Homo sapiens: one gene and its partner. The protein of the gene in region 2 interacts with the protein of the main gene of each other region in a pairwise test. Each region holds a gene or a part of one and is shown on either strand. Other genes may lie near its edges.

Region 1 (5,134 bases), on a different chromosome or scaffold from region 2:
TCGAACCCGGGAAGCAGAGGTTGCAGTGAGCCGAGATCATGCGACTGCACTCCAGCCTGGGCGACAGAGCGAGACTCCCTCTAAAGAAAAAAAAAAAAAAAAAAGGAAGGGATGTTATTGTTTCCCAAATGAGGCAGTGAGGCTCCCAGAGGTTAAGTGACTAGCCCACACGCATACAGGCAGCATGGGGCACAGCCGGGCTGTCTGGCTATTGAACTTTTCTGCTCCATTGTGCCAACTTGGAATCAGGTTTGCTCAGGGAACAGCCCAGGGGACAAAGGGAGCCTCCTACACTCACCTTCAGTGCATGTGTTTTTATTTCTGGCAGTAGCCAGACAAGTGGCTGCTTATTCTCCCCACGTTTCCACTTTGCCTGGGACTGCTACGCTCCTAATGCCAAGTTTTGGATAGTGTTCAGCAGGGCTACGTTACGACTTCATGAGCCCTTGACACATTTGCCTTTGTGGGCAAAAAATATTTAAAATACACTGAGCGTGGTGGCTCCCACCCGTAATCCCAGCACTTTGGGAGGCCAAAGTGGGCAGATCACTTGAGCCCAGGAGTTTGAGACCAGCCTGAGCAACTTGGTAAAACCCCGTCTCTCCAAAAATACAAAAAAGAAAATTTAGCCGGGCATAGTGATGCACACTTGTGGTCCCAGCTACTTGGGAAGCTGAGGTGGGAGGATCGCTTGAGCCCGGGAGGTCACAGTGAACCATCATTGCGCCACTGCACTCCAGCCTGGGTGACAGAGTGAGACCCTGTATCAAAAAAATACATAAATTTAAATCCTATTTTATGACTGCACTGGTGTAAAGACTCAGAGCTCACTGGGTTCAGTTCTACAGGTAAGAAAGTTGAGGCAGAAGAGAGAAGCAACTGTCCAAGGCCACACCTTGGCAATGATAAAGACCAGACCAGCCTCTGCTCCCTTATACTCAAAGCAACACAGGAAATGAACTTAATTTTAACATTTAAAACAAAGGAGATCTGCATCTTTCCTTGTTCATTCATTCAGCCAATATCTAATGAGTACCAGCTTGTGTCAGTCACTGTGCAGGGCTAGGGACACGGCACAGAACCAGGCTGGCAGGAGGGAGGAGCCCCACCACCAATAACTCTAACGATAGTCCTCCCGACGGCACACAGGGAACGTTCACTGTGCTGAGAAAACAGAAAGCAAGGAGCTAGAGCCCAGTTTAAGAGTGAGGAAAGGTTTCCTTTACTTCTATTTTGGGACCTAAAAATGAGTAAGAGAAAAGAGTACATGTCTGAAATTGCCAAAAAAATTATTTAAGGCAGGAAAAAAGAATACATGTGAGAACTGGCCTCTGTGGTACTGCATGTGACAAAGCCATGTAACTAAGATCAAATGGTCTTATGCTAAGATTGGCAAGTATCATTGGAAAAGAAGGTGGAGCCCAGGAGCAAGTAAGTGTTCATGCACGCACACACGCGTGCCTATGTGTGTATGTATATTTTGTAAAGTTAATACATGACAGAGGCAGGATTTTAATTCAGAGGGAAAGGATAGTTAATCTAATATGGAAAAAAAAAAAAAAAACCTGACTCTCCACCTGGAAAAAAATACATTTGGGTCCTCACCTCCCACCATTCACATTCACAAAAATCAATTGTAGGTAGATTAAAGGCATAAAGAATAGAAAAATACAAATCTTAATAGAAGTAGAAATCAAAAACCAAATGCACTCAATAAGAGCAGAGAGGACCTCAACCATGACAGGAAACGCAGAGGCTGTAATAAAAACGAAACACACATTTGACTACATTAATTTTCTGTGTTTGCTGCAAAAGATACCATAAACAAAACTAAAAGAGGGTAGATTTCAGGGAAATATTTGCAATGCAGATGACAGATAAAAGGTTAATGCCTACCATAGGTCAAGAGCATCTGTAAATTGATTTTTTTAAAGACAAAAAAAATCTTTCCAGCAATCCCAGCAAAGCAGGATTTCTCAACCTCAGCACTATTGACTCTTTGGGACTGATAATTTTTTGCTGTGAAGGCCTATCCTGTGTGTTGCAGGATGTTTAGGAATACCCTGGTCACTATCCACTCAATGCCAGCCTAGTTCTAACAACTAAAAATGTCTCCAGACACGGCCAAATGTCCCCGGGGGGAAAGGAGCAGCAAAATTGCTGCCAGGTGAGATCCCCTGTGGCACAGCAAATCCACCAATAAGCATGTGACAAGACATGTCACCTCAATAGTCAGGGAAATGTACCATCAGAGAAGAATAAGATATTTAATAGCAGGAGTGCAGGGAAAAGGATGCTTTGCTGGTGAAGATAGGAATTTAGAGCCGCGATGGGAGATGAGTCTGGTGATACATGAGACGCCGAAAGCTGACTTAGTGTAAAATGTGGAGGCCACACGATGGGCAGATTCCTGAGGGGTCGAGGGCAGGCCTCCACAGCCAGCCAGGGCTTCCGCGGCTAGGGTGTCAACCGCCAATTGCATTGTACCTGAACTCATATTTTTTGTGTAGTTCCCCTAGTTCACCATATTGGAGGCGTCAGCCTGAAAATTCAAAACTGTGATTCCTGGCCTGTTGTGGTGGCTGAGGCCTATAATTCCCAGCAGTTTGGGAGGCAGAGGAGGGAGGATCATTTGAAACCAGGAGTTTGAGACCAACCTGGACAACATAGTTAGACCCTTGACTCTACAAACAAAAAAATTTTTTTTAATTAGCCAGGCATGGTGGTGCATGCTTATAGTCTCAGCTACTCAGAAGGCTGAGGAGGGAGGGATTGAGCCCAAGAGTTCACGGATGCAATGAGCTATGATATTGCCACTGCACTCCAGCCTGGGCAACAGAGTGGGACCCTGTCTCTTAAAAAAAAAAAAAGAAGAAGAAGAAGAAGAAGAAGAAAAAGAAGAAGGCCGGGCGTGGTGGCTCATGCCTGTAATCCCAGCACTTTGGGAGGCCAAGGCAGGCAGATCATAAGGTCAGGAGTTTGAGACCAGCCTGGCCAACATGGTGAAACCCCATCTCTACTAAAAATAAAAAAATTAGCCAGGCACAGTGGCACGTGCCTGTAATCCCAACTACTTGGGAGGCTGAGACGGGAGAATCACTTGAACCCCAGAGGTGGAGGTTGCAGTGAGCTGAGATCAAGCTACCGCACTCCAGCCTGGGTGACTGAGCAAGACGCCATCTCAAAAAAAAAAAAAAAAGTAAAAACATACAACAACAACAGAAAGCATAGATGATGTTGCCAGGCCAGCTGTAAATAATGTGACCTAAATGACAGTACCTCAGTTTCATCATCAGTGAAACCAAGGATGATGAAAAAAATTGTACTGTCCACACAGGGCTGTCACAAGGATGCTTTCAGATAACCCATTTAAAAGCAGCATCTGGCATGTGGCATGTGCTTTTTGACACACATAGAGCTATAAATGTCAATTAGGTAATACACGTAAAATGCGTGGCACAGGGTCCAACACCTGGTGGGTATTATCTAGGGCGTCAATCACCCTCAAGAAGTCTCCCTGACCCAGTTGCCAGGATGAGAGTAACTGGGGCTCCCCTTCCCAATGTAAGGTGAATGTGGGACTTCACCTGCAGATCAGCCCCCGGCCTCTCCCTCTCTTGGCAATAATCCATTGCATTTTCAGTTCTTTCCCATTAACCATCTTTGTCTCTCAAGACTCCAGGCAAATGTCACCTCACTCTCCCGGCCCAGTGGCCTGCTAACTGAGGATTTCCAGCTTGGCCAGCTCCCGACTCCCAGCTCCCAAGGCAGATATGGACAGAGTCCCCTGGCTGGGGCAGCAAGAGGAGCTGCCTGTCCAGGACACAATTGGAGGGCTCAGGTGTCTCCCTGAAGAGTCAACACTGTTGTCCCCTACCTCCTCCCAGAGCAGGGCTACATGTGGGGGCTCCCCTCCACCTCCCAGCTATATCACGTCCACTGCCCTTATCTGTGGACATAGCGCTTCTTTACATAGTCACTGAATCCCCAACTAGAATGTAAGCTCCAGGAGGCACAGACTTTGCCTGTCTCAGTCACTGTGGTCTCTCCAGCCCCTATAGCAATGCTTGGCACATAGTAGCTGCTCAATAAAAATAAATTGCTTAAATAAGTGAGTTGAGCAAAGCAGTGTGGGGTCACCCCCAGGGCCTCCTTGCCTGCCCCTTCTCCAGCCCCTGACTCCCACCCCGACCCCGACTGGACCTCTCTTCCCACAGCATCCCTTTTACTCTCTTGCTGAAGAAACTATTGTTCCCAACTACCAAGCCCATCAAGTCAAAACCCCTCTGTCCTGGTTTCAAGACCCCTCAAAGTGCCCCTCCCCACCTGACCAAAGCTATTTCCCACCACTTCCCACCACACCCCTGCAGTTTACTGGGTCTAGTGAGCTCCAGGAGCCACAGAGCCTGACCAGCCTTTAGCAACCAAATCAGAATGAACAGCTGGCTTCTCCCTACCTTGCAGGATCCCCTTGCAGGAAGAATGCAGGAGGCAGTTAAAGTGCTTGGCCAGTACCCTAAAAATGGGAGCTATCATCATCTGAGGCTAGAGGCAGTTTCTCAAAGCAAATGACAGCTGTGGGGTCTGAGGGATGCCGGTTCAAATCCCAGCTCCACCATTTTACTGGTAGGTGGCTTTGGACAAGATAATTCACCTATGGCCCAGTTTACACAACTGTAAGGCGGAGATAACAAAAAAAGCTACTTTCCATGCCTACTGAATATATTCAATCAGATAATAAATACGGTATGCTCATCACAATACCTCGTCAAGAATAAAAACTCAACGAATGAATGGCCTTTATTCTGATGATCAGGATGCTGATCATCAGACCCCAGCCTGAAAACAGAGAGACTAGCTTGCTTCTCTGCCATGATGACTACGTTTTATCAATTATCATGTCCTTAGTTTATTGTGTGTCATGGTGTCTTCAGAGACTCCTTAAATCTGTCACCCCATTGCTTGGCCCCATTGTCTTGGTCGATAATCCTTTTCTTGGTAATCACACCAAGCTTTACGGTCATCACCACACTGTGGGGGCAGGGCCAGTGCATACAGTTCACGTTGTGTACTGCACAAAGATACCATCAGAGGAGGGGAATGGGAGGATGGAGGTGAAATCCAGCTGGGACTT
Region 2 (5,134 bases):
CCACCCTGGCCTCTGATCCCTCCTGTCTCACTCTGTCCGGAAGCCTGGGCCATGGGGGTCTCAAGGCCACACGCAGCATGTGCTTCTTGTGTTCCAGCCTGGAAGCGCTTGTGATCTTCCTAAGCGTGAAAAACCAGCCTGTGGTCTTGTCCCTGAGGAAAGCCGTCTCTCCTGACAGCAGTCAAGAGCTGCTGGCGCTGGGCACGGGTCCCGTAGATGCATGCTTCAAAGCTCAACCACATGCTGGGCCTGTCTTCCATGGCAGGGAATTTATACCTGAAATAACTATTTTAGGCCGGGCGCGGTGGCTCATGCCTGTGATCCCAGCACTTTGGGAGGCCAAGGCAGGAGGGCCGTCTGAACCCAGGTGTTCAAGACCAGCCAGGGCAGCAAAGTGAGACCCCATCTTTTAAAATAAATAAATAATTAAATAAATAATACCGGCTGTGGGGGATGAGAAAATAAATGAAATAAATACATACAAAAATACACAAACTTTTTAAAAAAGTGGCCTGGATGCCTCCTGGCCTTAGAAAGCCAGTGCCAGGCCTGCCTGTGAAGGCCGTCCTGCCCAGACCCCCAAGTCCAGCCACTGCTCAGCAGCACTGAGGTCCCACCCCCAGGCCGTGCACCCCTGAGCCCGAGAGGAGGAGAGGGGGAGACGGGGAGGGTGGGCCATGTCCTGGGGCTCTGAGGCTAGCCTGGCTCAAGCCTTCCTAGTTGGAGCCAAAAGCTCTGAGCCAGAGCCCAAAGTGGCTGGTCAGACCCCATCAAAAGGCAGAGTACCCACGGCTGCGATCAGCAGCAGGGACTATGGAAGGTTCTGGATTCTGGAGGTGCTGGGTTCTTCTGCATGGAATGGAGTCACAGAGCACTGAAGCTGGAGGCGGCCTCAGGAGCACCGAGCCCTTAGAGCTCCTGGGGAGGATGAACACGGCCCCACACTCCCTGCCTGGGGAGGACGGACGTCATCCCACACGCCCTGCCCGGGGAGGACAGACGCCACCCCACACTCCCTGCCTGGGGAAGTCGGACGCCGCCCCACACCCCCTGCCTGGGGAGGACAGACGCCGCCCCACACCCCCTGCCTGGGGAGGACGGACGCCGCCCCACACCCCCTGCCTGGGGAGGACAGACGCCGCCCCACACCCCCTGCCTGGGGAGGACGGACGCCGCCCCACACTCCCTGCCTGGGGAGTGAAGTGGCCCTGGGGGCGCGGTGGGGGTGAGGACAGGAGCGAACCCCAGAGCAGAGCAGGGCAGGGCAGAGTGGAGCGTGGCCCGTCTGTCTCAGGGTGGACCTCAGCATGGAGGGTGCCAAGGGCAGGCACACCTGGCTATGGCTGGTCCCCCAGGTATGGTATCACACTTGATAATGGCACGGGGGACCTCGGGGGTCCAGGGACCACACCCAGAAGATGGCGGGGAACTGGCCAGGACGAGCCTCTTTCCTGAGTGTGGGCAGGGTCTGCTTCTGGGACGCCGGCTCCTAGAGTCCCACTAAGTTTTCTGCCAGGTCACTAGGCAATGGCAGAAAACAAGACAGCTCCACTTGGGCCACAGACCTGGACACCCTGCAAGGACACTGCCTGGCCTGCAGGAGGGAGCTGGTTCTTAGCCCACTTCTGTGCCCCCTGCAAGCTACTCTGTCTCCTCCAGGCCCCGAATGCTGCCCTGCTGCATAGCCAGTCCCTTCTTCCTGGGGGCACCTCCAGGACAGGCTCTTTCTTGGCCCTTGGGAATGGCCCACTAGACACGCTGGTGGGGACGCAACCATCCAGAATTGTTTCAGCCATGTCTCTCTTCCCCAGGCAGTCCCTGCCGCCGTATCTTGGCTTACGTCTCAACCAGACTCTTGAACATGGTGGCATAAACCAGCAAAAATGAAGCCGGCCCTCTGTCTTTAACCCGGGCGCAGCCACATGACATGTCTGCTGATGCCTGCCAATGGGAGAAGAGGGGTGGCTGGGAACAGACCACCTGCTCAGGAGTCAGAAAACCCTGACTCCAAATCTTTGCTGCACTACTCGGCTCTGCAACTCCAGACAAATCACCCTCTCTGAGCCTGTCAAATGGGACGACAACGAGTTTTGAGGAGTAGGTGTTAGAGCATCAGGCCTAACGAAGGAACTCCGTAGACACCTCCTCTCTTTACCAGAGACAACCCGGGCGCTGCAATGCCTGAGGCCATCAGCGCGTGTGAAAAGCAGGGCTACAGCAGACTCCAGACATGGCCAGGGCTCTGGGGCCACCCTCACGACAGCAACAAGTGCGATGGCAGCCACCCCCACCCCCACCACAGTGGGGAGTATCCCACTTGGTTCACACCACCGTCCTGTGAGACAGGAGGAGGAAACGGAGGTGGGGGGCAGGGGACTGTGCCGGGGGCCCAGGTCACACAGGGAGCAGCGGGGGAGGGGATTGGGGAAGGGGTGCCTGGGGTCAGGCCCAGGGGCAGCAGTTGGGTGGAGGCACAGCAGCTCCTAGGGCTGCTACACATAGCTGACAGCAGGCAGCTGAGCACTCGACTCTCCGGAGCAGCCCCAACCCCAGTCCCACGGGCCCACCTGGTGTGCGTCCTCTGCCCGCCAGTGCCCTGCCGACGGGCCCGTGGTGAGGGAGGATGGCGGAGGAGAGGGGTCCAAAAGGAACAGTCGCAACTCTGTCATTTAAAACCCTCCCGGCTCTGAGGACACACCTGTCTTCCGTATGCTGGTACCAAGCAGGCGACTGTCCTGCCTCTTCTTGAATACCCACAGGGACGAGGACTCACTAAGCGCATGACAACCAAGTGTCCATTCTGATGACATCTGGAGTATGTCCCCAAAACTTCAAGATGCTAGGGCAGACCTGCTTCCTCCTCTGGGTGACAGAGCCTCCTGCTGTCCTCCGGCCCCTTCCTGCACCCAGAGCCCCTGCCTTGGCCCTCCCTCTGGCGTGCCAATGGCATCTGTGACAGCAAACTGAGACCACGGCCAAGGGCGCATCTGTGCTCGGAGGATAGCCCCCCGCAGGCTGTGCCCAATGGGCCCCTTGGCCAAAAGCCAAGGAGTCAGAGGCGTAGCCCACAGCACTGAGGCGAGCAGCCACCATCCCTCATGAGGGTTAGCCCCCCCAAACACTGAAGCCAGTGGCCACCTCCCTCATGAGGGTGAGCCCCCAACACAAATCCTAAGCTTTCTGGGCACTCAGGATGCTCGGGGAAAGGCTCATTTTGGATATCCAGATTAAGCATAATGCAAATATTCCCAAATCCAAAAACAAAATCCGACATCCAAAACACTGCCGCTCTCAAGCATTTAGGAAGAGGGATACTCGACCTGCATTAGGAAAGAAACAAACGTACCATTGAGGTTGCGTATGAGTCTCGCTTCCTTCTCCCCATCTTCGTCCAAGCCGTCAAGCTTTAGTTTCTTCCAGGCGAGTTCGTCCCTCTCCTGTATCTTCAGATCAGCGTGGAGCTCGGCCAGCCTCACGGGAGGAAGATGCAGCTGCGAACGAAGGGGAGGAGCCTGTGAGCCACGAGCAGGACGGACCAGGACACAGCGAGAAACTGACCTCGGAGGAGGCTGGCCACCGGGAGGTTCTGGGAGACCAGGAAGAGGTGGAGTCAGGGTCACTGTCAGCAGGATTCAAACCCCACAGGTTTAGACAAGAACTCAACATGGACACCAGTCTCTAGGCCTGTCTGTATACACGATCCGGAAACCCCAAGTCCATCGGGGGCTCCCCACCAGCAGCGGCTGCTCATTCCTGTCCGGCTGTAACAGGACACCCCACCCTAGCACCTGAGGACAGTCATCGGGCACTCGGATAAACAGAGCAGGAAGAAGATACCCACTGCATTACCATTGCAGATACATATTGCAAGGACACAGACACCTAGAAGTTCTTTTTTAAAAAAAATCACTGTAATCTCAGATCTGCCCCATCTTCATTTCCCAAAGACCCTCAGTCACCACCTCTCAAGTGTACCATGATCCGAACTGTCTTGCTGAGACGGTTCTTACACAGCCCCAGATCCTTCTGGAGCAGGAATCTGTCACCCTCTCACTTACCTGCTGGCGTAGACCACACAGGCAGCGCCCCGGAACGAGCTGCCGCACTGGGGCTGAGGAACTTCCCCGCCCCACCCTCATCCCTCTCCGCAGGGCAGGCCACGCTTCATTCATCCCACCCCTGCCCTCCCAGCTCTGGGACCCTGGGTGAGAGAAGGAAGCAAGTGAGGTGACCGCTGGGCACACTGCTTTTTGGTTGCAAAGACAGGATTTAGGCCAAGAGTGTCCCCACGTCAGAAAGACTGGGCCAGAATGCCAGGCGGCCGAGGCAAGCAGCAGAATGAAACCCACCGGCCAGCTCTCATCAACTCTGGCCTCGGGGCTGGCCCGGCCGCTAAGAGGCGTGCGCTGGGGCAGGCTAGCCCTTCAGGGAAGCGAAGGCTCTTCCGTGCAGAGCAGAGTGGCCCAGCTGTGTGAACCAGAACGTGTCATGAGGTGGGACCAGGGTTCACGGAGACAGGGTGCTGTCCCTGGCTAACTGGGGAGGCTGCACCGCATGCCTGTAGTGACGCCAGCGCATTAAAGCCTCTGTGGAGTCCTGCAGCAAAGGAAGTGCTCGGCACTGTGCAGTGCAGATCCCCAAATCTCTCGGCTCTCAGGAGGGTCCCCTTCCCTGAGCACCTGCATTCTCACATTCCCCCGGGGCTGGTCCTCATGAGCTGCCCGTGGCTCTAGGAGGGAACCCCAGCTCCTGCCTCTGAGCTCCAGGTGCCCATCACCTAACGCCTGTCTCTGATCATGTGTGTTTAAATATGGAGTCTGTTTTCCCTTAGACGTTTGAAATATTAATCTTTTATCTATATTTCATTAGCTATTTTCTAACATAAATACAACACAAGCTAGTATCCAAAGTATGTGTGTTATATTTCAATAAAGTTTACGTAAAACAGTGAACATCCCCACGAAGCGTCAAGAGCCGGCTGCCTTCCCAGTGTCCCGCAGCCCGCGCCGCCTTGTGGCCCACACTGCCTTGCAGCCCGAGACCTCAGGAGGCCCAGCCCTCAGGTCCGCGCCGCGCAGGGGCACACGTTTCTTTCAAGACTCGCACGAAGCCAATTCTGTGTGTTTGGCACACC

What was found. Proteins that work in one complex are often made in the same cells at the same time.
Region 1: the proteins of LRPAP1 (region 2) and ETV7 interact in a two-hybrid assay, tested with the Homo sapiens proteins (one large-scale study listed by BioGRID and IntAct).

What each region holds. Positions count from the first base shown.
Region 1 is NC_000006.12:36,376,693-36,381,826, forward strand, and holds part of ETV7 (transcription factor ETV7), read right to left. Parts: intron 1-5,134. UniProt on the Homo sapiens protein: Transcriptional repressor; binds to the DNA sequence 5'-CCGGAAGT-3'. Isoform A does not seem to have a repressor activity. Isoform C does not seem to have a repressor activity.
Region 2 is NC_000004.12:3,521,561-3,526,694, forward strand, and holds part of LRPAP1 (alpha-2-macroglobulin receptor-associated protein precursor), read right to left. Parts: intron 3,492-5,134; coding exon 3,347-3,491; intron 1-3,346. UniProt on the Homo sapiens protein: Molecular chaperone for LDL receptor-related proteins that may regulate their ligand binding activity along the secretory pathway.